Homo sapiens: one gene and its partners. The protein of the gene in region 3 interacts with the protein of the main gene of each other region in a biochemical or structural test. Each region holds a gene or a part of one and is shown on either strand. Other genes may lie near its edges. The genes, in order: EPAS1, DSG2, JUP and TCF7L2.

Region 1 (7,026 bases), on a different chromosome or scaffold from region 3:
AAATCTCTTTTCTATTATGTAGGGATGCCAAGTTATTTTCTAGGACAGTAGGGTTTTCCCAGTGCTTATGGAGTTATGTTACGGATGTGCTTCATTCACCAGGGTGAAGCACGTATCTGACTTTCATCATCCCCAGCACTATATATGCTCCCAGGCTATATGGCTACGTCGGCTTGAGCCACTTCACCTCAAAGCCAGTGACACAGGGGCTATGCAGTGGGATTGTCCATGTTATCTCACAAGACTACTGAGGTACACAAAGCTGTGTCTTCTGCCCAGAATGTTCACCTGAATACAAAGACTGCATCTGATAAATAACCTTACCTATAACATGGATTCCTGCAGTGCCTGTCACTAAAAGTGCAATCTTCTTCTTGAACCACCATCATTATCACCACCACCACCACCACCACCACCACCACCACCACCACCACTACCACCACCACCACCACCACCACTAACAATTACAATAAATGGTGACTGTGTCGAAGTTCCAGGACGGAAGGCTTCATGCATGACATTTTCTCCCTATGAGGTTAGAGCATTTCTTTCTACTTATATAACTACCCACTAGCTCCAAAGGCTGTGAATCCTGGCCCTACTGTGGTCAGAACTGAAGGACAGGAATGACTCAAGGATACTTTTACAAAAGTTCTGAAATTGTGCCACAAGTGGTGGCCAACTCTAAGAAGGGGCGACCAACCAACACCAGGCCGGTCTGGAATCAGAGGAGAGAAACCCCATCCTGGAGAGGAGGGTCCCTCCCATGAAGAAACCAGATGCCCTTGGGATGTCCAGCTGATAAGAGAAAAGTGGGTAGGCCTAGGGGAGGCTGAGCAGGAGCTTTTTTTCCTGGGGTTCCATGGTTTCCTGCTAGCTGAGGAAGACAAGGCAGATTCTTGCTGATCTGGGGGTCAGATTCTTCCTCTTCCTGCCCCCCAGCCACTAACTGCCTTCAGAAGTGGTTTCAGCTCCTTGAGTTTAGTGGAAGATTTTGCTTTGGAGGAGGCCAAGGACAGGAAGTAAGATATAAGCAATAACAAGAAGCCTCACATGTGTTGTGGTGTCTGGACTTCTCAAAGTGCTTGCACAGCCATTATCTCATTTTACAGTGACCCCATGAAACAGGTTAGAAAGTGTTATCTCTATTTTGGAGAAGGGGAAACTGAGATCTGAGGGTTTCCTGAGGAGAAACCCTAGAAGATGAGAGAAGAGTGGCAAAGAGTTGGGGGTGGCAAAGAGCTGCCACAGGAACTGTCACCCTGGGACACATGGCGGCTCTAGATGCTGCAGAAAGCTGAGGTCAGGCAGGGAGATCTCTGCCAGGAAGGGCGCATGCGGGGGGTGCTGCTCAGCAAGCCCCAGTGGCGCTTACTCAAGCCAGGCCTACCCTGGGCCCAGTCTTCTGCATTTCCTTCCCTCCCTGGGGCCGGCCATTGCTCCGGGCATCTGTTCTCCCCATCTTCCTCCTCCTACCTCCCATCATCAGGCTCCACAGTCCCAGAGGCAGGGCTGGTGGGGGAGTTAGGAGCTGTAGGGTATCTAAATACTCCCTCCTATGACAACCCCAGTCTCTTCCCCACCTGCTTCAATCTTCTAAATGAGCTAAGAACCCGAGATGGCATGACATGCCTAAGCAGTCTTAGGCACTCTTTCAACAACTCTAATAAAGGTGATAATAAGAGCTAACACTGAACATTTATTACTAAATTTGAACCTAAGCCATCTAGTCCTGAAGCCCATGCTCTTAATCACTACTGTGTCTCCTAAGAGACACTGGGCCTGGCACTGGGGGGTTAGCATCTGGCTCAGCTACCTTCATCTTCTTCAAAATGGCTGGACACTGGCCGGAATGGAGTTGCATGCAGGAAGGAACAAGGCGGAGGGAAAGGCTCAGTCAGTAATGGAAGAGGGTCAGTCTCCAGGGCAGAAGCTGATGCTCCTTACTGGCCTCTGAAGCAGGAGTACAGATGGAAGTCTCTAGACTCTTTCTCCTGGGGCAGAAGACTGCCTTGAGAATTTCCTCAGGAGCCTGATACACGTATGGAGAAATATGTTCACACCACAATGATGAGAAGAGTTGCACACCAGGAAAGCTCTGCAGATGGACCCTGAGGCTCTGTCAATGGGAGACCACCAAATACAGTACCGGGAACCTCTGAGGGGCACTGATGCAATGAAACAGTGGCACAGGTCCACGAACATGCACCCGGCAATACCACGTCTATGTTCAGTTCCACACCTTTAATACAGGCACAACTCCCCACACACACAGGTAAGACCCATCTCTGCCCACAGCATACACACCCATGGCCCCCTACCTGTCATCACAGTAGGTGAACTTCATGTCCATGCTGTGGCGGCTCAGGAAGGTCTTGCTATCCAGGGGGATGTCCATGTGGGATGGGTGCTGGATTGGTTCACACATGATGATGAGGCAGGACAGCAGGGGCTCCTTGTAGCCACACAGACTATTGTGAGGAGGGCAGTTGTTGTAGACTTTCACCTGGCCCGTGCAGTGCAAGACCTGAGACAGGCGTGGAAGGGTCAGACATGGAGCCGAGAGTGCTGGGGGTGGGGGTAGGGCCTTAGGCATCCCCTGCACCGCCGTTACCCTACACCTGGGACTCCAACCCAGGCCTGATGTTGCCCTACCTTCCAGGTGGCTGACTTGAGGTTGACAGTACGGCCTCTGTTGGTGACCGTGCACTTCATCCTCATGAAGAAGTCCCGCTCTGTGGACATGTCTTTGCTTTTTTTCCCAAAACCAGAGCCTGGATGTGGAAGGATGGGAAGAACCAGCTGAAGTCAGTTTTATATGGATATTCATGAGAGGGGCCCAGCTGCAGTTTTTCTTGGCAGCCTATTGTTTATATTTTCCAAATATCTGCTCTCTTAGCACCTGTGGTCTGCCATCAACACTGAGCTCCATCATGGCCTGTGAACTAATGGTTCCCACTCTCAAGCTTATCTCCTCAACTGGAGCATAAACTCCCACAAGGGAGGAGCTGCTCCATCATTTGATTTCCCATTGCATCTGGAACATGGTCAGTGGTGCCTTCAGAGCAGCGACACAACGACTGCCTATCAGCCACTAACTCAGCCACCCTTTCCTGGGGCAGGCCCAGGTCTTCTCGCAGAAATTCCAAGGGACAGTCTGAGTGAGGCCACAGTTACTCCAAGGGTGTAAGCCTTCCTCACAGGTTAGAAATGTCTCTCCGACACTCCCGTCTTTCCTTTATAACCTGTCTCTCAGGAGGAATTTAACCCCTCCTGTACCCCATTTGCAAACTGCAATAGCTGTGTTCAGGATACCATGCCATTAGCTTTGTCCCTGAAGTGACATATGTATCAAGGCTCTAGAGAGAACTCTGGTACGAATCTCCTTACAGTGGACTTGGTGAGCAAGTCCACTTTATGGATTAACTCAACCTGGATCATATCCTCTCTCTCAGCAAAAATTAAATCACCAAGACCAGCAATATAGCTTACTTCCTTATAGTTGCCAAACAGCCTCCCGATTCAGAACCATTTTCCACTTTTTGTAAAACAAAGTAATGAAGAGTGCCAGCTGAATCCCACTTGTCTGTGTCTAAATCCTGCCTACACCACCATCTCTGGTACCTACTTTCAAAGATATAATCCTGCCCCCTACCCAGCATCATAGAACAATCTAGAGCCTTGTTTCGAATAGTCACACTCCTTCCTCCAGGAACAGTCACCAGCCCCTGCACTTAAACTTCCAGAGGATCTTGACTGACATATTCCTGAAGAGTTATGTGTCAAAGGAACTGTGGCACCCTTGAACAAAACTTCAACATCCTTAGGGGACCCCACTCAGTAACAGACTGAATAGTGAATTTTTTTAAAAAAGAGAGAACATTCCTTCATCACGATTATAAAACCATTTCTCCCATACCAAATTATGATTCTTGCCATTTTAATTTTCAGAGGTGGGGTTAGCATACAATGAGATATACCTGTATCTTGGGATCTGGCCCCACCACCAGGACCAGACCAGTTGTTGGGTATAAGGGGGCTGGAGGGATTCATTTGTGGCTGTTGCTGGGGTATTATTGAGGCCTCTTAACTTGCTAACCTCTGGATTCTCCCCATGCTGACATTTGATCTTTTTTTTTTTTTTTTTTTTTTTTGAGACAGAATCTTGCTCTGTCGCCAGGCTGGAGTGCAGTGGCGTGATCTTGGCTCACTGCAACCTCTGCCTCCTGGGTTCAAGTGATTCTCCTGCCTCAGCCTCCCAAGTAGCTGGGACTACAGGCACGCGCCACCACGCCCAGCTAATTTTTGTATTTTTGGTAGAGATGGGGTTTCACCATGTTGGCCAGGATGGTCTCGATCTCTTGATCTCGTGATCCACCCACCTTGGCCTCCGAAAGTCCTGGGATTACAGGCGTGAGCCACCGTGCCTGGCCTTGTTCATTCTTTCTAAACACTGCTCCACACAGATCACTCCACCCCTGCACAGAAACCTTCAATAGCTCCCCATTGTCTATGGAATAAAGTTCAAGGCCCTCCACCTGGCCTTCAAAGCCTTCCACAATCTGCCTCATGGCTTTCTTTTCCTCTAGGAACTCACACTAACCCTTTAGGTCTAGATCACGAGTCCACCCATAGGCTGGCACCTTCAGTGAAGATTTGCTGTTGCATTGAGTTTGACTGATCCCAAGTCCTCAATATGCAGATCAAGAGATCTAAAGTTCTACTCAGATAATTAGAGGTCACTTGGCTGTGAATCATGGCACTTGAGAACTGAAAGGTTGTCGCCTTTGCCTAGTCCAATACCATCAATTTGAAAAGAAAGACTCTGAGGAACAGAGAAGTAGGGTACTTGCTTCTGGTCACAGACTCAAACTCAGACTATGGTCAGTGGCTGAACTGACACTAAGAACCCAAAGGCCAAAGGGTTTCTGGAGTACAGAAGAAATCAGTCTTTGGTTTTCTCAGGCTTTCTCAGGCTTCAAGCACCTACCCATGCAGAACATGAATCCTCTTTTTAGAGAGCTTTAGAAAGTCTGGTAGCCCTTTCCCCACAGAACCAGACAAGACACTGAGCAGCCTACAGGGTGCTCTCTGCCAGTGTACCCTAGGACCCAGGTGGTCTAAGGCCTGCAGAAGAGAGAGCAGAGGAGCTGGGTGAGGGAGCTGTGGCAGTGGTAGAAGAGGAGGTGGTTGTGATTCTGTACTTTGCAGGCCCAAATGTGGACTGCAGACTCAGTCTGTAATAGGGTGGAGGTGAGCCAATGAAGTGTCTGTTTTTGCAGCGTGTGTGGTAATAAGAGCCAAACCTTGTAGGCTTAGCCTCACTGCCTCTGTTATTCAGGCTGGACAAGCACAAGCCCCATGGCAGTGACAGGTGAGGTTGTTAAAGAGGACATCTAGACATGCACAGAATCTCCCCAGACCAGTGACAGAATCTCAGGTTTGGAAGGGACCTTGACAGTCATTAAGCCCCAATTCTGACCAAAGCTTCAGTCCTCTTAACAATGTCCCTATTCATGCCTTTGTTGAATGGCCACAGTTACAAGACAGGAAGCTCCACTGCCATTGCAACCATTGCAACGTGCTTTCTGCCTGTGTGGGTCCTCTCATCTACTGGCACCTGCTGGGTATCCCCATGGGTAAGGTCCTGAATGCTACATCTTTTTAAACCTCTTCTCCATCAAAACCTACTTGACCTGCGTCTCATCAGGGTACCATTTCCTGTGGTAGCTCTTCTCCAAAAGTAGCTCCAACAAGCCATGCCTTTTGACACTCATGGCTTCGTGTAGTTTCCTCCCACAATGAGCCAGGGCTGGCCTGTAACATGCTCTAACCAACAAGATGGGGCAGAAGTGATGCTCTGCCAATCTGGGGACAAAGCCTTCAGAAGGCCTGGCAGCTTCCACTTTAGTGCTTCTGGGAGCCCTAAACTGCCACGTAAGATGTCTGGCTACCCTAGAGACACCATATGGAGAGGGAGAGTCTCTGAGTCTCCATAGAGTGAGAGAACAGTCCTGTTGTCCCAGCATGCCAACTGAGTCCAGGGTTCCAGCCACCTGCCACAAGGTCCCAGACGTGTGTGAGCTATCCTGATCACCCCAGCCTAGTCTGGCCCCCAGATGACTGCAGCCCAGCTGACATCACATGGAGTACAAGACCCACCCACTGAACCCACAGAACCCTGGGAGATAATCATCAAAGCCCTATGTTATAGGTGGTTTGTTAGACAGCAATAGATAACTACAGTAGTTACTATGAGCACTTTGGCACAGACTAGTTCCTCATTGGTTTGGGTGGTGTCATTTGGCAGAGATGCTTGACTCTTGGGTGATGAAACCTCCTAGAGACAGTGTCCTAACCCAAAGGTGTCCCCTAGTAGTGGGACACCAGGCACCATGCAGGGCCAGCAGGAGATATTTCTGAGTACTGGATCCTCTCAATGCCCCAATCTCATCTCACAGGCTACATACTTAAATTTTTTAAGGACATCCATTTTTCCTGCATCACAAGGGCCATGAGCTATCTCCCTTATACCCGTAGACAAAGGGGAGGCAGATTCCCACCCAGTGGGGGCAAGAAGGAAGTAAACACAATTAAGGATACCATTTTTGAGACTCAGGTTCTCACGAATCTCCTCATGGTCGCAGGGATGAGTGAAGTCAAAGATACTATGTCCTGTTAGCTCCACCTGTTTCAAAAACAAGGTTAGGCATCATTATTCCTAACAGTGAAGTAAAAGACTCCAAGAGTAAGCTGAGCCACCTTCCAGATTTGGAGGCAGGGAGGAGACTGAATTGGGTTTTCTCATAATCCCAGTCCAGTGTCAGGTCCACAGACAGAAAGATGTAATCGGGGACTACTGATGATGACAGAGACTTGGTCTGTTAATGAGTCAGTAGAGAGCTGTCTACCAGGATGGACATGAGCAAAGCCAAACCCAATGCTTGGGGGTGGGAGCGTGGCCTGAGGCGTGTGGCCTGAGGTCAGCGAGGGTCACCGTGGGCATTTGCAGGGAGAGGTCAAGTG
Region 2 (7,026 bases), on a different chromosome or scaffold from region 3:
ATTTAGGTAGAACACTGGAGGATAAGCAGGCTCCAGAGATACGATTCTATAGGAAATTTTCGAATTCAGGGTATTGGGCTCATCTGCATCTGTTGCATTGATTTTCATCACAAGAGTATCTGGCATTAGAAATAAAGATGTCTAAGATGAAATTCAACTTTAAGCATATTTACCTGTTATTTTATTTATAATTTTAGCTTGTTCCAAAAAAGATTTCAGGTGCTTATCAAAATCACATACAGTTGACCACAATATAACATTTAACTGGATGAGGACATAAGCGTGAATGGGATATAACAATAGTAAAAACAAGATGAAGGCAAGGCTGAGGGTAGAGTCCTGAAAAATTGCTGTATAAGGGCACAGATTTGTTTATAATAGTATTAGTAGCCAATACAAAGAAAGTAACATGAGCAGGTACATGATCCTGATATCTATTAAGATACAAACAAATCAGGAGAAGCGTAACTATTCCTTACATCATGGTCAAAAAGAAATCTCTCATTCGGGTCCTCATGAAGAGCACTGTGTTGAACAATGTTGTGAATAAATATTACAGTAAAAATAATACAACTTACAGGTCAGCAAACTATAGCCAAAGCTGTAGGGCCAAAGCTAACCAGCCACCTGTTTTTGTAAATGAAGTTTTATTGGACCACAGCTAGGCTCATTTGTTTACATATTGTCTATGGTGCTTTCCTGCAGATAGCAGAGTTGAGTAGTTGCTACAGAGACCTTATCCATCACATTAATCTACCCTATCTGTTCTGAGGGTAAAAGCAATGGCATGTAAAGTCCTTTAAACCTATAAGGAAAGCAGTTCTGAACTGCTTTCTTATCATTTGTTCTGTAGGTAATACTCAACTTTCATTAAGATATGAAATTTAGTGTTTATTTACAGTGGGGATAAAGTAATCTTAGGTATTTATTTATTAAAAAAAAAAAAAAAGACTCTTACGTGCTGCACTCAACTCTTCAACAGACCCAACAAAGACATCCTGTGTGAACACTGGTTCGTTGTCATTGATATCAAGAACCTTAATGCGTAGCTCTAAGGGTTTCTCTACATTGTTTCCTCTTGCATCCAAAGCGTAACCTGTTAGCTGAAATCATGACATAAATAAGATTAGATTTAAGCTAAGAAAACTAAATTACCATACTATGAAAAAATAAAACAAATGACACTTATTATGACAGAAAAACTACAAACTAATAAATCTAAAATTATTCTTCTTACCAGAAAAAATGGTGTTTCTTCTCGATCAAGAATGCTGGTAACATTCAGTTCTCCAGTATCTTTGTTAAAGACAAATATACCAAAAGGTGGCTCTGTAATCCCTTTTCCAGTGTATTTGTAAGTAATTTTGAGTCCTCTTTCTTCTGCAAGATCAGAATGTATCTAACATAAAAATAACAGGAATGTTTCAGGTTGAACTCTCTGTAATTTACTAGATTTGATCTTAGCCAAAAGCCTAAGAAGTGATTCTCTATAATTTACAGGTAAATATTTTTATGGACAATTTCCTTCTGAAGTTCTTTGGTAATACAGGCCAGAGATGACATGACTTGGACTAGGGGAATGGCAGTGGAGTTGAAGAGAAGCAGCAGATTTGGAATATATTTTTGGAATAGAACTGATAGTGTGTGGTACATTTTTGGCTTGAAAAACTGGAGAGAATTATAGCATCAATTACCAAAATGGGTAGAACTTATGAAGAAAAGCTTTGGGGGGAAAAAAATGAAGGGTTTATGTTTGTGCATGCCAACTTTGAAATATAGAGTAGCAACACTATCACATAATTTATCAAAAAAATTGGACCCCTTGAGAGTGAAAACACAGATATTAATTATTAAGCCAGGAGAGCAGGCATAAACCACGACTGTCTCAGGCAGATGAAGATGGTCCCCCTACCTAGTAATAGACACCAGTTCATCTTGAAAATGACATTTTATGACATCCTCTTTTGAGCACTGAACATTTTGTGTTACCAGTGCCAAATCCCTTTACTCTTAGTTAAATCAAAACTCAAAGTTATCTATATTTTTGCCAATGATGCTGCATCTTCCGGAATGGGAAAGAGAATCTTAAAGTTGATACTTTATGCTAAAAAGTAAGCTCTGCTAATTTTCAGATATATCTTGAATATTTAAAAATTCTGTAAGCACATCATACATTTTCCTTAAATCTTAAAGTAGACATAAAAGTCCTCTCACACCACATTTTAGTCATATGCATGTATTTCATGTTCCTCTTTAGGAGGTACCTTGGCAATTGGATTCTTCTTGGACAGATCCTCTCCCTCCCGAAGAGCCACGGGGGCGGTGATCCAGGCGCGCTTTTGCCGCACTAAATGAGGATGTTTAGGAAGCAGCTTATTTTCATTTCTTGTGCTTAAGACCTATAACAATAGAATATTGCCAAAATTTATTATGTGTCATAAATATAGAACATTAGTATGCTGTCCTATAACATAATAAACTTTTAAATAGTGCAAATTTTAAGGTATGCTTCGTATTTCCTATGAGGCTTCATTGTCTAAAAGGGAATATATATATTCTAGCAAACTGCATAGGGCCTCAAGAGATTGTCTCCAAGCTAGTAAAAGTGTAGGGTTTTTTCTGGTTTATTTTTTCTTTTGAGACAGGGTCTTGCTTTGTCACCCAGGCTGGAGTGCAGTGGCATGATCTTGGCTCACTGTAGCCTTGACTTCCCCGGATCAAGCCATCTTCCTGCCTCAGCCTCCTAAGAAGCTGGGATTACAGGCATGCACCACCACATCTGGCTAATTTTTGTATTTTTAGTAGCTATGGGGTTTCACCATGTTGCCTAAGCTGGCCTTGAACTCCTAGACTCAAGCCTCAAGCAATCCGCCCGCCTCAGTCTCCCAAAGTGCTGGGATTACAAGTGTGAGCCACTGTGCCCAGACAGTAGAATTTTGTTTTTAACTGTAAGAAATGATTTCCCAGAGTGAGAGTTTGAAAAGTTTAAAGAATCATTTAGTAGCCTTACAAATTGGCAAAGTAAAAAATAACAGATCATGTCAAAAACGTTTTTTCTTATTAACTGAAAATGAAGTTTCATTTTTCTGTGGTGGTTTGTGGTTTAAAAATAAATTACTAAATGTTTTTTAAGGCTAAATCTTAGTAATCTATTGATATAAACTTGACTAAAACCAGGGAAACTGCCAGTTAATGAATTTATTGTTTTCAGGATTGGGTAAAGAATTAAATTTCCCATTTCATTTTCAGAACCTTAGGCAGAAAACCATTCTATAAATTTCCAGTTGGGTTTTACAGGTGAATATATATTTTATCCAAGGGAAATTTCAATACAGCTGACCTGGGATCTTAAGATCAGAAATAATCCTTATACTAGGTTTGGTTTATCATTTTACTCATTTTGTTGCTCTATGTAATAGGTATTTTACTTCAAAATATGTACTCTGGTTATCACTAGGTCATTGATTTTTTTTTTTACTTGAACAAAATTTTCTATGACAAAAAATTGAAATTACTTTTTCATTTATACCTCACAAAGTATTCATTAACAGCTTGATTAATATCTTTTATGATTTTTCATAACTATACAGTTGCACATATATACACAGATGCATAAAGGTCTTTTTGCTATAAAAATGGACTTACACTATATATCTTATTTTGCCCCGATTTTCATTCAGCACCTCGTCATGGACATTCTTTCATGTACCATAAATGGTTTTAACATTCACCTATTGGTGGATATTTACATTGTCAAAAACTGCTGCACTGAATACCCCTGGATAAGCTCCTCTGCACTTGTTTGAATGGGAATGGCTGGGTCTAATACAACATGTGTCTTCAATCTAGTAAAGCCCAGTCAACCTGTTTGCCATGGAATTAACCCTCCTGAGTCAGAAGGCAGAAATAATCCCTTTGTTTCCTCACCTGTAAGTGAAGTCCACTTCCAACGTTAAAGCAGATCTGTAAAATAAAATTATTTGATATTTAGCCAATTTACTGCTCAATTCAGTGTGAAAACATTGTTCATGAATAACCTACTGCATTGAATATTATAGACATAAAAAAAGTTTAACCACTACTACTATTCTTTGTCAAGAGGAAACTAATTTTTCCCATTGCCTTCCCTAATGGGAAGTGCCCGAGGAGAAATCTATATTCTCCTGGATCCATACTGACTCCTCCAGAAAACAGTATCTTAAAAAACAAACAAAATAATCTGCCTTGTGAAATCTTAGACATTCTCTCATCCTTTACTCCGCATCCTATGGTTTTTATCTTGTGTTCTCCAGGACCTGCTTACTTTTCCTCGAGGCCACCAGTATGTAATGTACCCCACACCCAGCTAACTCCCACCATCCCTATGGATGTGTGTGCATTATACACACACAAAAAAACACACACCACACACACACGGACAGCCCATGTTCTGACTTCTCGGTTCCTCAGCATCCTCAGTCCCACCAACTCTTTTCTTTGGTTCTTCATAGGCACTGTCACACTTGGGACTTCATCATGACCTAGTACTGTTCTAAATACAGTTATGCTTACTCTTAAATTTGCCCAAAAAACTCCCATCTTGCTTTCTGAATATTTTGCACTGTAAAATAATAATTTTAAAAATTGATGCATTAAAGATGTGCATAGTTTTGGAATACATGTGATAATTTAATACATTCATATAATTTGTAAAGATAATTAGTATACTTGGGATGTCAATTACCTTAAATACTTGTCTTTTCATTATGCTAGAAACATTTAAATAATTCTCTTCTAGCTGCTTTGATATGTATAATAGGTTATTGTAAACTATAGTCACCCTGCTGATCTATCGAACTAGTGTACTTATTTCTAACTAGTGGTCTTATTTCTTCTATCAAACCATATATTTGTACCCATTAATCAATTCTTTTCTTCCCCCACCTCCCCACTACCTTTCCCAGTTTCTGGATTCTATCATTCTATTCTCGATGCCCATGAGATCAAAACTTTTAGCTCCCACATATAAGTGAGAAGATGTTGTATTTGTATTTCTGTGCCTGGCTTATTCAGTTAACATAATGACCTCCACTTCCAGCCATGTTGTTTTGCTGCAAATGGCAGGATTTCCTTATAGTTCATTAATCTCCCTGCTGGCTTCCTTCTTCTCTTGGCTCAATCTGAACCAGCACTTTCTAATATGGTAGCTACTTGTGGCTATTTGGATTTTAACCGCAATTATTTGAAATGAATAATCCAGTTGCTCCACAGCCACATGTGCTAAGGGCTACCCATTTGGACAGGGCAGACAGAAAACATTTCCACCGCTGCACACAGTTCTACCGGAGCAGCTAGCAGACTGCTGCCTGCCACTCTGAAGATGTTGTCAGTGACCACCAGGGAGGCTTCATTTTCATGACTGCTATTCCTGCCTCACTTTTCCTCTCAACTCTAGAAACCTATTATTCTCTTTAGTTCTGACCATGTACTGGCAATATCGCTAGAGGAGGCCACAGTGGCTGAATAGATCCCTTACACATTCATGCTCTCAAATAGCTGCTCTTTCCATGGGGTGGCGGTTCCTTTCTAGTGTGACCATATGTCTGCATTTGCTCAGAAGAGTCTAGGTTGACACCTGCTGTGAGGCATTCCATCTGTTAACAACCCTTTCATCCTCAAAAGTGTGCTCACACTATAAATTATATCGTCACTTTGTCATTGCCTTACCCTTATTGCATTTCTAAAATAGGCATTCCAAACTTTAGGAGATGACTCTAGTCACACCTCTGTACCTATTCACTCTTATGAGATGACCCCATGTATTATTTGACTGAGACTATCTTCAGTCATCCTCTCCTTCCCTTCTTTCCCCACAGAAGAGGTGTCCTGACTCCTTTCCAAGGCAAACCATCGTTTGTGTGCTTTATTTGCAACTCTATTTGTTCTCCCACATTTATCTTCAAGAACCTTAATCCTTCCACTAACCTTTTATCTTCCTTCTCCATTGGCTAATCAATACATTTATTTCCTTCTGATTGGCAAACCAAATATATTTAGGTTTTCCTTATCTTAAAAAAAAAACCAGATCCCTCTCTTGTTTCTGTTAACAATCTATTGCTCTATATCCCTCTCTTACTTATAATTCCAAATTGAAATTATTGTCTATATGTATTGCTCCCACTACTCCACCTTCCATTTATGCATTAATTCACTGGACTCTGTCTTTGGTGTAGCTTTTCTCAGTTGTTTGCCTTTTCCCATCTGCATGGTCACATGGATCCACAAAGCCCTAGTTGGTACATCATGGGAAACAAGGCATTCCCTAAAATTTCAAAGTCTCTTTCACATCCTTTGCATTCATTTGAAAGCTTCCTGTAGGGTCCATTCCACAAGTGAATCTTTCAGCCTCTTTCTTTCCTTTCCATTGTCAGTTCATGTTCTTGGCTCTCCATTCCAAAGAGAAACTCAAGGAGAGCAGATGTTCAGCTTCTAGTGTGGGCTTCTCTGGGGCAGATGAACAATCATGGCTAATTCTCTATTTTATGATCAGATCTATGATCTCTTCTTCATTCTGTCTACTATTAACTTGCCCAGCTAGCAATGGCCAGAGATGTCTCTAACCAAAGTGGTGCTCCCCAAATTTATGTATTTTCAAAGGTGGCATGGTATGAAAAGCAAGGGAAAGCAATGCTGAGATAGATCACTTCTCTCTGCATGTTCCTTGGGTGGGAATTTTTGAAGAGAAAGATCAGTGCCTGGATCAGAGAGGTCCCAGTGTCCACATCATCAGGGAACAGCCTTAAAATTTAGTATATTTAGGCCGGGTACAGTGGCTCACACCTGTAATCCCAGCACTTAGGGAGGCCGAGGCAGGCGGATCATGAGGTCTGATGATCGAGACCATCCTGGCTAACACGGTAAAACCCTGTCTCTACTAAAAATACAAAAAAATATTAGCTGCCCGTGGTGGTGGGTGCCTGTAGTCCCAGCTACTCGAGAGGCTGAGGCAGGAGAATGGCGTGAACCCGGGAGGCAGAGTTTGCAGTC
Region 3 (7,026 bases):
AGTGCAGGCAGTGGGCTGGGCAGACACTGGGGAGCAGGGCAGGCCACAGACAGCCCCACCTGGGTCCTCTGGGCTACCTCTTGCCCTGCCCAAACCCCCAGCACATGACTGGCCATTCTACCTCTCACCAGGAACCTTGGGGAAGTCACCATCACCTCAGTAATCTCTGTAAAATAGGCCCCACATGTTCTGTCCATCAAGGGAATTTTTTTTTTTTTTTGCACACTTATTATGTGCCTGGCAGTGAATTCAATGCCCTGCTTATATTTTCTCACATAACCTGACAACGACCCTGCAAGGTAAGTACTATCACTGGCTCCACTTTACAGATGGGAAAACTGGGCACAGAGGGGTTATAAGGCAGCCTGACTCAGGGGCCCAAACCCCTACTCTATTCTCCTCCCTTACCCATCAGGTCTGTTTTCAACCCTGAAATCTCAGGAGTCTAATTACACCCTCATCATCCCCAACGGTAGCAATCCTCCCACTATACAGGCAGGCAAACAGAGGCCCAGAGAACCACCAACATCACATCTCACAGCAGATCAGAGGGAAAGTCAGGGCTGTGGGTTCAGAGAGCAGGAGCTGGGTCCTCAGCTGAGACGTCAGGTTCCTCTCTAGCTTCCATCCCCTGGGTGGGTCTGGGAGTCCCACAGGTAGGTGCCCAAGCAGCCACACCCTGGCAACTGTCCTGATGCCCCCAGGGAGAGGGACGCAGAGGTTCCACCCTCTAATTAGTCGAGAAGGAGGAGACAGCTGCATGGCTTTCCCACCTGGATGCTGTACTTTTTGCTACCAACACAGTGCCTGGCCCTGCCAGCCAAAAGGCCCCCTGCTACCCCTACCAGCTGTCAGGGAGGAGACTGGCATGCGAGGGCTGAGCTCCATAGAGCCCCACCAGCCACAGTCTACTCACACTACTCCCAGCACCCACAGCCCACCCCCTGGCATGTTCAGGGCCCTGGAGGCACCTGTGGCCAACAGTTCTAGGGCCTGGCTATTCCTCTCTCCCAGAGGGGCAGGGGAGGCTTGGGCTGGCGGGGCATCCCCATCCCGGACTAAGCCCCAGAGCTGAGTCAGTCACTCATCCCACAGCCTTGGCCTATCTGCAGGTCAGCCGCAGAGGCCTGGTCTCCCTCCAACCCCAACGAGGGGCCCTCAGGCTTGACACCTACACCCCTCTACCCAAAGGGGAATCCCTGGGGGTTCCTGGGGGCTACGGCCCTGGCTCTCCCACAAACGTGAGGCTCCTGCAGCCAAAGGGCTGCGTCCTCCCTGCCATCCATGGGCTCCCTGAGAGCCATAGTGATACATCCTCATCAGACTCTTTTTTTTACTATTTTTTGAGACGGAGTCTCACTCTGTCGCCCAGGCTGGAGTGCAGTGGCGCAATCTCAGCTCACTCCAACCTCTGCCTCCTGGGTTCAAGCAATTCTCCTGCCTCAGCCTCCCAAGTAGCTGGGACTACAGGTGCATGCGCCACCACACCCGGCTAATTTTTGTATTTTTAGTAGAGACGGGGTTTCATCATGTTGGCCAGGCTGGTCTCAAACTCCTGACCTCAGGTGATCTGCCCACCTCAGCCTCCCAAAGTGCTGGGATTACAGGCATGAGCCACCGTACCCAATGTCTTCATCAGATTCTTATGTTCACAGAAGGCAAGGACTATGGCTTTTCCTTCAGACTGGAGGCACCCTAAGGGCAGGGACTATGCCTTCCCTCCCTACTGATGGTTCACAGAAGAGGATTCTGTGACCCTCCCAGATGCAGCACCCTGAAGTAGCTGCACCTCCTCCTTCAGACTGGGTGGGCCCCTAGTTAGCATGAGCTGTGCCTCCTCCCTCAGACCAGAGACCCCCTACAATCTGCCTCCTTTCACTCTGACCTCTCTCCAGGACCCAGGCAGGTTTTCTGCCCCATGCAATAGTCCCCAGGGGTCCTGACCTTGGCTGGGGGGCACCCCCTGGGTGTAAGTGGTGGTTTTCTTGAGCGTGTACTGGCGCCCGCAGGCCTCATCCTCCTCCATGATGCCCTTGCTGCTGACGGAGGGCACGCAGGTGTTGGCGCCCGAGTGGATACCCGAGTCGTAGGTGTATGTCTGCTGCCACTCAGTCACCTTGATAGGCTGCTCCATCAGGTTCATCACCTCCATCGTGGCTACTGGGGGCACAAAGGAGGAAGTCAGGAAGCAGGAAGTCACCTGGCCCAGCCCCCAGCTTCAGCCCGTCACCAAGCCCCGCCTGTCTTCCCACATCATCACCATGGCCCAGGGATTTCAATGAGGATGCAGGCTGGGGATGGGGGGACTGCCCAGAAGGGCACCAGGCCCAGGGAGGGGCTGCCCACGACGAGATACCCTGGGAGCAGTGAGCCCCAGGGGTGCGGCTGTGTGTATGTCCTGGGCTTGCATCTCTGACCTCCCAGGGGGATGAGCCCCAGGGGGCAGGACAGTCAAGGGCCAGCTGCCGCCAGAAGCCCCTGCTCACGCACCTTGCTGCCCTGACCCAACTCTCCCAGGGGCAAGAGAAGGCACTCAGGGCTTCTAGCAGCTTCTGAGGTCCCCTGGGCCCACCCTCAACTACTGGGGCTCCCTGGGAAAGGCTGCAGGGAGGAGGCACCCAAGCCATTGGGCAGGAAACTGGGCGGGGCAGGGAAGCGGTCTGACAGGTTTCTCTGGAGCGCCCCAGGCTCCCTCAGAGACTCCAGGATCTGGCTTTCCTACAGGTTGGGCAGGATCACACATGGCCCTGAGGTCCAGACCCTAAGGCCCCCTCTCTCCCAGCCCTCCCAGTCCCTAGACGCCTCTTTGAGTCCCACAGAGCAATTCAAATCTCAGCTACTCACTACTGGGGCAGTTCCTCTCCCCACAGAACCTCAGTGTCCTCATCTGTAAAGCGGGGTCACGCCACCTCCCTCAGAGGTGGTTGCGAGGACCTGGTGCATAGCAGGTGCTCAGAGGCCACGGCCATTATCATCAGCACTGCCTCTCCTCCAGAAGTGCTTCCTCACCTCCTGGTCTCCTCGAGCCCAGGCTAGGGATCTGGGGTGGGGCAGGCCTGTGGGTGGTCACTGCCGTCAGGAACCCCTCTCTCTCTCTGCAAAGGTTTAGGCGCACCTGAAGGTTAATGAGTAGCAGGGCCGAACTTTGTACCAGGGAGGTGAACTTCCCGCTTGGTCTGTGTTTGGCTCCACTGTCCTGGGAACTGACCTGCAGAGGTCAGAGGCTGCGGGGAGAATGGACGCCGTGATCCCATGAGGGCCTACTACGAGCCAGACCTTTCACAGACACCGTCATGCTCATGGGCGGGTTTCAAAGCCCATGCACTGGTCCCCCGCGTACAGATGCAGAAACTGAGGTTAGAAATGGCAGAGCTGGGACTGGGACCAGGTGTGAGGGCACCAAGGTCTGTAGTCTTTGCACATCCCGGCGCAGCCTCAGTGAGTAAGCAGAACTCAGGCTGGTCCACCCATGAAGCCAGGCAGCACCCGGGTTGTCTCACTGTGATGGGGACCAGGTGAGGGTGGGGTGGCTGGGGCAACCTGGCCCCACCCCAGGAACAAAGATCACCAAGGATAAGTCTTCCCTGTGACTGCCCCAGTGCCGCCCTGGCCCTCCAGGAGGATGACGAATGGTCCTGCAGGTCTCCCAGCCTTTTATGGCAGGCAGCCGTGAGCACACCCGGAACAGGCAGAGGCAGGGGCCAGGCCAGCTCCCAGCTGCCTCCTTCCTCTCCTCCCGCAATCCCTAGTGACTCAGAGTTTCAGGCTGATTAAACAGAAGCAGTCCCGCCACCTCAGACGGCAGACCCCAGACGACAGGCTCGGGCCGCCAGATGTGCACAGCTGCTTCCCAGGCATTCGAAAGTGTAGCTATTTCAGAAGGAGCCCCCCCAACCAGCCCCCTTTCCACACGCACCCCTTCCCCACACCCCTTCCCCAGCAACAGAGGGGAATGGCCACTGGCAGGAAACAGGGGCAATGGTGGGGGGCGGGGGGCGGGGTGCTCGGAGAAGGCAGACATGGGAAAACCCTACTAAAATCCTGAGCTCCTCGTGCTGTGCCGCCTTCCCCAACCATTTCCCTGCCCCAAGGGCAAGTCCCAAGAGAGAGCAGAGGAGAGTTTGGAAGAGAAGCTGCCCCCAGGAGAGAAGGAAGGTGCAAGTGTACAAGTAAACACGGTAGCAATAACCCACTGAATGCCGCTCTGCTGGGCTCAAGGCTGAACGACATCTGGACACTGCTGGACATCTGCAGCTCTGGTCAACAAACACACTGCATCCCAGCCAGAGGGCCCTCCTGCATAGACAGTGCCTAACCCTGGGGCTTCTCAGCTAAGGGAGAGGGAAGCGGGCCTCACTCCAAACAAGGGTCACCCCTTGCCGGCCTCACATCTAAAGGGACCACCACAGTCAAGCTGAGGAACTTCCTCAGCAGGCCCCTCACCACCCCCACCAGCCCAGGTCAACCGCCAGGAGACTGCTGAGGGCTAGACAGCTACCCAGGGAGAGACAGAAGCCACAGGATGCCATGGGGGGGTGGGGGGGTGGACGCCCAGTGGCCTTTATTATTATGTGAATCTCATTCTTCCCTCAAAGCAACCCTGGCAGATGTTTTATAATTTCCAATTTCTTTCTTTCTTTCTTTTTTTTGAGACAGAATCTCTCTCTGTCGCCCAAGTTGGAGTGCAGTGGCATGATCTTGGCTCACTGCAACCTCCACCTCCTGGGTTCCAGTGATTCTCCTGCCTCAACCTCTGAAGTAGCTGGGACTACAGGTGTGCACCACCACGCCTGGCTAATTTTTGTATTTTTAGTAAAGACCGGGTTTCCCCATGTTGGCCAGGCTGGTCTTGAACTCCTGACCTCAGGTGATCCGCCCACCTCAGCCTCCCAAAGTGCTGGGATTATAGGCTTGGGCCACTGTGCCTGGCTTTATTCCCAATTTCTAGGTGAAGAAGCTGTGCCTGCACACTGAGAAAATGGCAGCACTTGTGGTAGGAACAGCATCCAGTCCACTAGACAAGCCTGGGTGGAGCTGAGCCCTCTTGCCAAGGGGAGGAGGGGACCAAGGTGCTTGCAGATGGAAGCAGAGCACTCGGCTGCAAATCAAGTGTCCCAGGTTCGGGTGCGGTGGCTCACACCTGTAATCCCAGCACTTTGGGAGGCCAAGGCGGGCAGATCACGAGGTCAGGAGTTCAAGACCATCCTGGTCAACATGGTGAAATCCTGTCTCTACTAAAAAAGTACAAAAATTAGCCAGGCATGGTGGTGTGCACCTGTAATCCCAGCTACTCGGGAGGCTGGGGCGGGAGAATTGCTTAAACCAGGGAGGTGCATGTTGCAGTGAGCCGAGACTGCGCCACTGCACTTCAGCCTGGCTGACAACAGAGCAAGACCCTGTCTCAAAAAAAAAAAAAAAGAGTCCCAGGTTCTAGTCCCAGCTCTGCCACAAACTTGCTGGGTGTCCTTGTGTCCCTGGATCTCAAAGGAATGTTGATGTCTAAGATTCTAGAAATAAAAAAACAGGATTCCCACAACAGACAGAAGAAGGCTGGGGGTGGGCAACGTCAGAGTTGGGAACCAGTTCAGAGAGAGGACACACTCCAGAACTCCTCCTGAGGAAGGGGTCACGGGAGCTATTCCTGCAACAGGAAGGCTGGAAGTCAGACCTCAGGCAGGACTGTCAACCAGCCCCACCCTTCTCCTTACCTACTGCCCAGGAGAACAAAGGAACTTCTCTCACAAGAAACAAAAGTGCTGGTTTTACAGTTCCCAGGGTGGAGGGGGCCACACCCAGTTCAGTCTTGTCCCTCTCCACCCTGGACCTGGAGTCAGACCTCCTGCAATGCCCCTGGACAGAGCCAGGGTGGAAGCGAGAGAGACAGACGCAGGCCCTGCCCACTCATCCCAGCCAGAGACGGGCAGGGACAGAGACAGGGCGGGTTTCTGAGTTGAATGGGGGGCCTTTGTTTAGAGCGTGCTCTATTGTTAGCAGCACGGGAGGAAGAAGCCAGATCAGAGACTGTAGGGACAGCCCAAGGACAGGAAGAAGGAAGACGGGCCCTGGAGAGGGGGTGCAGAGGACCCTTCCCCATGGGACCCACACCAGGTAAGTGTGAGCAAGTAATAAGGCTAGACTGGGTGCACCCCTACCCTTCTTTCCTGCCTCCTCCTCTGCGCAGCCAACCCAGAGGGCTGGCACCGGGCACCCTAAATCCAAGACTGACCTGGCAGAGTGTGGCCCAGCCCTGACATTAAAAATAGCCCCACCAGAGCTACACCAGGCTCCTTCCCCAGCCGGCACCTGCCAAGGACAGTCAGCAATGGGCACATCTAGGCTGGGTTGCAGGGCACCAAGTGCCAAGACACCTGGAAATAAGGACAGGAGTGGGTTACCCCAGAGGCCGTGCTGGAAGCAGACTCAGAAGCATTGCATTTGGGAACAGAGGAGCAGGGCGGAGCAGGGCAGGGCTGGGTCCCCCAGAGGTTCCTTAGGCTAGAGGCCAGCACCCTGTGCAGACACAGGTCCCCAGGCTCAGACAGCGACAGGGTGAGCACAGGATTCTGAGTGAGGAGAGGGGCTCAATTTCCTTAAGCCTCATTTTCTCATCTGTAAAATGGAGATGATCAAGTGACTTCTTTTGTCACTGTGACTCTGGAAGCCCTCTGTCCACAGGAAAGGCATGCATTCTCATGCTAGAAGAACAAAGAGATGGCAGAGGAGGCGGAAGCCAGCTGGCGCAGTGGCTCGTGCCTATAATCCCAGCATTTTGGAAGGCGGAGGTGGGAGGGTCGTTTGAGCCCAGGAGTTCGAAACCAGCCTGGGCAACATAGTAAGACCCTGTCTCTACAAAAAATAAAAAGAAATTAGCCGGGCATGGTGGCATGCACCTGCAGTCCCAGCTACTCTGGAAGCTGAAGCATCACTTGAGCCCAGGTGATTGAGGCTGCAGTGAGCCAGGATCATGCCACTCCAGCCTAGGCAACAGAGCGAGACCGTGTCTCAAAACAAAAAGGTGAGGGGGCC
Region 4 (7,026 bases), on a different chromosome or scaffold from region 3:
TGTGAAAAACAAAAAAAGCAAAACCCCTTGGGAGACACTTGGGCTCCAAGTGACACCCTGTTCCTTCCCACTGCTCGAAGGCCTCAGAGGAAACAGAAGTTAAGAACATGTGTTCTTGGAAGCCCTTGGGTGAAGTGGTGGGTGGCAGCTTTTACTGTGAATTTTGAAGGCCTGACATTCCTCAAATACATATGTTCCCTTCCTGCAGAATGAGAATATGTGTACAGACGTGAGAGGGAGAGGGAGGGGGAGAGAGAAAAACACTGCATGTGTGAGTGTGTGTGTGTACGTGTGTGTACATACACCAAATACCACGGGAAGGCACCACAATCTGAGTACATTTTGGGGTGCAGACAAACTTCTAATGCAGCCATGAAGAAGGCACATTTCTAAGTTCCCATACCTACGCGTATATTCCCATATCTGAAAAATGTTCAGCAAAGAAAGAGACCATGTGTGAACATGGATGTGGGCTGTATACACATACCTTCGCTTAAGAAATTCCTTTCTGCAGACTACTATTTCATGAAATGCAATAAACACCCTAAAAATTCTAAGCAGCTCATTATATACCCCCGTCTGCTTTCATGGCTCCAAGCCAGAATATAATGATGAACCTTAACTTGTTAAGAACAACTAATTTTTGTTTCTGGCTGTCTCAGGGGCTTCTCTCTTACTCACTCTCACTTTACTTCACTGTTGACACGTTTCTGTTAACCGGATGTCATCTGCCGGCCTTGATTTTATGCACAAGCAGTAGGATGCATTTTCCTGTGCAACAATCCTGCTTTGAGTTGCATTAGGTTTGTCATTATTCTCTCATTTTCCCCCTTGCACTTGTAACATTTCATCTCTTCCTGCCTTATTTTTTGTGAGCCACGGTGCACCCACATTATGGTTTATACATGATCTCGCTCCCTTTGAAGCCGGCAGATTTCAGAGCCGGCTCTCGTCAGGAGAAGAGCCTTGCACCAATTTAGCAGGCTGAGGGCCCGGAGCTCCAACATCTCAATCTAAAGGGGGTCACAGGGTGGCACAAGTGAGTGTCAGCAAGAGCTGTTTAATTGCCAATCTAGGCTTCTCCATGGTGTTTAAAGTATAATGACCCATCACTTAATTCTGAGAAGTCCTGGCCCCACTGCTGAATAGAATGAATATCAAAGGGTGTTCTGGAACAGGGCAAGCTGCCTACATTTGCTATAACTGCCATAAGTATAATAGACCTATACTTCTGTCGCCCCATTATCACAATAATGTATTTAATTTGCTGTATATGCTTTTTAACTAGCTATCTTTCATTTGGCCTACCTGGGGAGTCGGCCGCCTCTCCCCGCACCTTGAGGCCCTAACCTTTCTTCCTGACGTTCCCTGCCTTTCCTCCACCCCCATGCCCACCTATAATTCATCGACTAACCTCCTAATGATAATTCAATCGATCAGCTTAACCCCAATCCCTATCCTACAATTACTTTACCACTGTTAACCTCCAGAACGCACCAAATAAACAAACATGAAAAATAACCAGGTGTAATATACAAATGCTGGGAAGGTGGGAAGATGAGCTGTGGAGTATAAGCTGCTACACTAATAGAATGACATGTAGCCGTGGTCCCTGGGTGCTCTCCACCTGGGAGACCCCCTACTCATTCCCATGCTTTGCGAGGCTGTGATGACACTATTTAATAAGTGTTACGCCTCCTCTTCTCTCTAGGCCAGAGAACACACGAGCGTTTTCCTACCTAACTAATACTGGCATGGATTTTGAAATTTTGATGATATATCGCAGGTAGAAAATGGATCTCTTCAACTATGATATCCACGGCATAGTTACCGATGCTAGATATGCCACGGTTTGTTTTTCTTAATGAATGTAACTCTCTATCACTGCTAAAGTTACTGTTTTGTAAGTAGGAAAAGCAGCATCTTGACCTGTCTTTCCAGGCCCTTCTCTGGTCTTGGCTTCCCATGTTGGCCACAGGGACTGGGGAAAGAAGCTGGGGACAGCACCCCTGCCATGTAACGCATGCTAATTTCATTATGTGCCATCATCAGAATGGGTTGGTGATTTCAGACCATCAGCAAAGTCTAAACCTCCACCGATTTAATTAACTTGACTGAAAATCAGATGAACAGAAAATAAAACTATCATTAGAAACAATTAGCGACTAAAACATACTGCTGCCAACCAGTTTGTAAATAAACTAGCAGTCACTGAAAAATTAGCCAGAATTAATCAGAGGGAGGAAAAGAAGAACATGGGGATAGGAATGTATCTTGTAAATATGTTTCTACGCTGAAATATAAATATATATGAATGTACAGCACACACACACATGTTTTTTTTTAACTTTCAAAGACTTAGAGCTGCACAGACCACTATGATATGCACCAGCCACGTGTGGCTATTGAATATTTGAAATGTGGCCAGTCTAAACTGAGAAGTGCTGTGCGTATAAGATACACATCAGATTTTGTACCAAAGCTCAGCACAAAAAAGAACATAACATCTTATTAATAGTTGTTGTCCAGGAATAGCATGTTAAAATGATAATATTTTGGCTATATTGCATTGAATAAAAACATGTCATTAAAAATAACTTTATCTTTTTTTTAAAAAAAAAAAAACAAAAACTTTTTTAAAAACACGGCTACTACGAAATTTAAAATTCCCTCTGTGGCTCACACTATATTTCTATTGGACAGTGCTACCTTCGAGGGGAGGAGGCGGATGCTTTCTTGTTGACTTGCAATCAGAGTCTGAGCTTTGAGAACACCAGTAATCTTTTTTCGAACTCTTCTTGGTATAATAATAAAACTACCTTCACCGCTACCTTTCTTGCTGAGGACAGGACAACAGAGAAATGGCATTTTTAAAAGCTTCTGTCCTGTTTCTCCCTTACCTTCTTAATTCATTAAAATACATTGTTCAACTGAGTGACTCAAAAATTTTACCCAGAAAGACATCATTTACCTTGGAATTTCAGGGCAATTTTTCAGGATTTTCTGGGAGTACAGCCTAATGCCACATTGGCTTTACACTAATAGAACTACATGTAGCTGTGGTCCCTGGGTGGCTTGGTGGCCATCTAGAGAACTTCTTGAGAAGTCACACATGGCCTTGGATGAAGGCCCCGGTTCTTGGAACTCACCTGGACATGGAAGCATTGACGGTCAGAGCTGTGGGGTAGGGGTGTCTGAATCCTCCTGTCGTGATTGGGTACACTGGTTGACCTTGCCTACAAAGAAGGGGTACAAAGTAAGAGACTTGAAACAAGGGTGGGGGTGGGGACAAGAAAAAGAAGAAAAGGGAAAAGTTCTCTCTGCACAGTAAGCTTTATTCTCATTTGATCAGAACAAAAATCTTGGGGATTGTACAGGAAGGATCAAAGGGAAGAAACACAGAACAATTTGAATGCCATAAATCTGATAGGAATGGCTAATTAAATTTTATAACCTCTGCTTATGTCAATAGAGACCCTCTCCCCAAGCTGAAACTAGGTGTTTTGTTGTAATAATTAAAGGCGAAGTCTCGCTTGCTTTAATGGAGCCATCACACTAATTGAGGGCTACACATCCAAAGGAAAACAATAATGAATGTAAATTTATACCAAAATAAAGTACAGTGAATCAAAGGACTTCAGTTGCGCTTTGGGCCTCTTTCGGTATTTAGATCTCGGTGAGAAAACATTAAATTAACAGAGCTTAATTTGTAGCCTTTTGTCAAATTAACAAGTGTTGACAAGAGTTACCGGGGGGAGAGTCCCCAAGAAGAATTGTGGGTAACCAATAGACAATCACACCTCATTACAATAATTAAAAAATACAGCAACATGCAAAATAGCATCCTCATGAAAGACACACAACTTTTTCTGACAGAGGGTTGTCTGAGTTGGCTATTCCTTTTTATCTAGCCTTCAAATATCTCCCCATCAGCCGAATGGGGCAAATGATCACTGAGAACTATTCGAGGGTTGGCCCCATCTATTTAGAAGAAATGGGTCACAAGCTCATGTTCATGTCTACCGTCCCAATAAAAATAAGAAGAGACAGAGAAACAGAAACTATACCCAGGGTTGGTATTTGGTACAGCTACTACATAATGCAATCTGTTTTTTATTAAAAAAAAAAAAAACAGCATAGAATCTATCTAACTAGAGAAATACGGGTAGAATTGTGGGGTAAGCCACTCCAAAATTTTATCTTCCTTAAGGCTTTGAAAGGCCATCTTCCCTAAGACTCAAACCTGAGTTTTACCAGGATTTATTCCTTTTAGCATTCAATGTATTGTCCTGTGTTGTTCAGAGTACAGATCACTGGTAAGGAGAAATACATCCACAGAAACAATCACGAAACACATATTACACACATGCTCATGCAAAAATATACATACACACAACCTGCCACAGTATGCTAATGCATCAAAGGCCTTTCTACTCTGAATTTAAAACACAGTTTTTTTAAGTTGCAAAAGTTAGTCAAATAATCTGGGCACTGCCAGGAGCTAGGATTGATGCTTACGAAGGCCCCACATGCTGCAGTGACGGTTCCAAATGCCCCATTCCCACCGTTCACAGTTAGGTAAAACATTCAACGTGCAAAGACTCTCAGAGAGATGCTGATTCAGTCCCATGGAGCTTCTCAACAGACAAAACTTTCCACTGTTGTTGTCAACCTTGGGAGTAATGTTCAGGATGAGGTGGGGGGTCCTGGAATCATACAAGAACATGCCCTAATCCCAACCCTGGATTTCAAAACAAGGCCGTTCTTGTTCCTGCTTCTGTGCCCCAAAATATGTAACACCTAAAATGGAGGACTCGACAGCCTCAACCCAATGACATGACTGCAGTTTGGGCAGCCAACAGCAGAAGGGTCATGACCAGCTTCATTGGGTGGAAGTTCCAGTAGTCTTCTGCAATTCCCAAAGGAACTGCAGGGCACCTCTGTCCACAGAGCCTCTGGGGACCATGGTCGCGGAATGCTAAGTGCCAGTAACATAAGCCACCTGAATGGCTGTGGATTTGCCTGTATTCCCACAGGACACCTCAGCAACACCTTTTCTGTGCCCTCCCGCAGCCCCCTCCCCAACCCTGGCTTCTAACACACACACATACACACACACACACACACACACACACACACACACACAGACACACACACAGAATAAATAATAAACATGCCCATGTAAGAAACAAAAAGGAAATTAAAAAATGGAACTCCTTACTGTGGTACTAACCATCCTAGCGGATGGGGGATTTGTCCTACGGTGCCAGGCGATAGTGGGTAATACGGGGATATATCTGGAGGGTGCGGAGGCCGTGGGATTCCTGAGGGAAGAAGCAGCATTTTAGGTACAAAGGAGGGAGAGAAGGAAAGAGCAATCCATTAGGGGATGGGAACAGGGAAAGGAGGAAGAGACGCATCTCTTCTGGAATCCTAGCACAAGGTTCATTCATGATTATAAATCCTGAGTTGTTGGTAGGTTTCATCTCATTTTCCCTCAGCCTCAGTTTGAAAAATTAGTTTATCTCCTTCTAAATGGACTGGTATACTGAGTAGACTCAAGATATGCCATCTTGGGTATTTGTGCCTCATGTGACTGGTGTGATTGTTTCAAGTTTAAAAGAAACAACATCAAAAAGGCTCAGCACCTGGTGGAGAATGAAGCAATGGTAATCCCTGTTGCTCTTACAACTCTGGCCCTTCACCCTGCGGAGTTTCATGCCTTACCTGCACAAGAGCTACTCCTCTGATTTCTAACACACTTTTTGAGCTGTGGCATTTGAAAAGTTACTACCCTTGCCTTTTTTCAAAAATGGTGACTCCTCTAAAATGTCTCTGCCTCTATTTGGATGAGCTGGAGAAACTGATCAAATGCCATCTGGCATCTTATCTAAGGCAGAGTCAGAGCTGAACAGACAAGGAGGTGTTGGAGGCTTGTGTACTCCATTCTGGAACTTCATCCGCTAGAGGACAGAGTCGTCTGTGGGGATTAAGCCCACCTGCTGAATGGGCACCGCGTGCGTCGCAGGGGCTAAGAGCTTCACAAGGCACACATGAGCGGATTCTGCAAGTACGTGCCACCGCACATCTGCCAGTTCCACAGGAGCACATCCTGTAGTCCACTCTGACAGAGAGGAATTGATGTATGCCATTGAAGTGGGAGGCAAAAGGCACAATACCACAGAATTAAAACAGAGTAATGGAGGGAACGGGCTGCATGTTCGTGGACGAAAACGACTTCATTTTTTAAAAAATTCATTCAGGAAGCTTTTAATCTGTAAATTAAGTCTCCCTGGGTGACATTTTCATGCAGACATTGCTTTCTCTCTATTACAAAAACCAAACAGATTAGCTGGGCTTGGACCCTACATCGAGCCATTTGCACACTTGAAAGAATGTTCGCAGAGGAAAAGTAAACAGTCCACAGACGTTAATCATATGTTTTACGATAACCATTTAAAAGCTATTCCCTGTACTACCATTATTTAAATGAGACGTTGACGCTGCCATTCACTGGTGGAGCCTGGGGCCGGCTGGAGGAGGCCACCAGGCATCCAAGCGCCAGGCTCAGTCCTGCACCAGCACAAAGGGGCTCAGAGACCAGTAAAACCCAGCTCATGTGTGGCTTCGTTCAGGGGCAGTGAAGGCCGCCTAACCAGGCAGCCTACCTACCCCAACACTACCAATCCCCTCTAACAAAGTGATGTGCAATCACCACTTTAAACCCATCCTTCCAATTACTGAGCTAGGAAGGGGAAATCCTACCAACACACTGGGTAGCCTGAAAGACACACACTAACCTTACCTGTTCTCCCAAGACCACCCCACCAGGCTGCTGGGGCTGCCTGCCTGATTTAGATCTTGTTGGAGGAGAGCTACAAGTAACCCCACCTTCCCTCCCTCTCCCCTTTGGGAAAAAAGCAGTCAATGAACAACTGGGATAAAAAGGGGATGCTGGGCTGGGTGTGGTGGCTCATGCCTGTAATCCCAGCACTTTGGGAGGCCGAGGTGGTCAGGAGTTCGAGA

Evidence for each region.
Region 1: the proteins of JUP (region 3) and EPAS1 form a complex in vitro, tested with the Homo sapiens proteins (one study listed by BioGRID).
Region 2: the proteins of JUP (region 3) and DSG2 form a complex in vitro, tested with the Homo sapiens proteins (one study listed by BioGRID).
Region 4: the proteins of JUP (region 3) and TCF7L2 form a complex in vitro, tested with the Homo sapiens proteins (one study listed by BioGRID).

Annotation. Positions count from the first base shown.
Region 1 is NC_000002.12:46,356,386-46,363,411, reverse strand, and holds part of EPAS1 (endothelial PAS domain-containing protein 1), read right to left. Parts: intron 6,689-7,026; coding exon 6,604-6,688; intron 2,775-6,603; coding exon 2,656-2,774; intron 2,528-2,655; coding exon 2,322-2,527; intron 1-2,321.
Region 2 is NC_000018.10:31,515,176-31,522,201, reverse strand, and holds part of DSG2 (desmoglein-2 preproprotein), read right to left. Parts: intron 3,964-7,026; coding exon 3,928-3,963; intron 2,400-3,927; coding exon 2,265-2,399; intron 1,400-2,264; coding exon 1,238-1,399; intron 1,104-1,237; coding exon 959-1,103; intron 120-958; coding exon 1-119.
Region 3 is NC_000017.11:41,769,703-41,776,728, forward strand, and holds part of JUP (junction plakoglobin), read right to left. Parts: intron 3,225-7,026; exon of another isoform or gene 2,888-3,224; coding exon of another isoform or gene 2,845-2,887; intron 2,555-2,844; exon of another isoform or gene 2,491-2,554; intron 2,161-2,490; coding exon of another isoform or gene 2,153-2,160; coding exon 1,945-2,152; intron 1-1,944. UniProt on the Homo sapiens protein: Common junctional plaque protein. The membrane-associated plaques are architectural elements in an important strategic position to influence the arrangement and function of both the cytoskeleton and the cells within the tissue.
Region 4 is NC_000010.11:113,142,221-113,149,246, reverse strand, and holds part of TCF7L2 (transcription factor 7-like 2), read right to left. Parts: intron 5,325-7,026; coding exon 5,222-5,324; intron 3,237-5,221; coding exon 3,150-3,236; intron 1-3,149. UniProt on the Homo sapiens protein: Participates in the Wnt signaling pathway and modulates MYC expression by binding to its promoter in a sequence-specific manner. Acts as a repressor in the absence of CTNNB1, and as activator in its presence.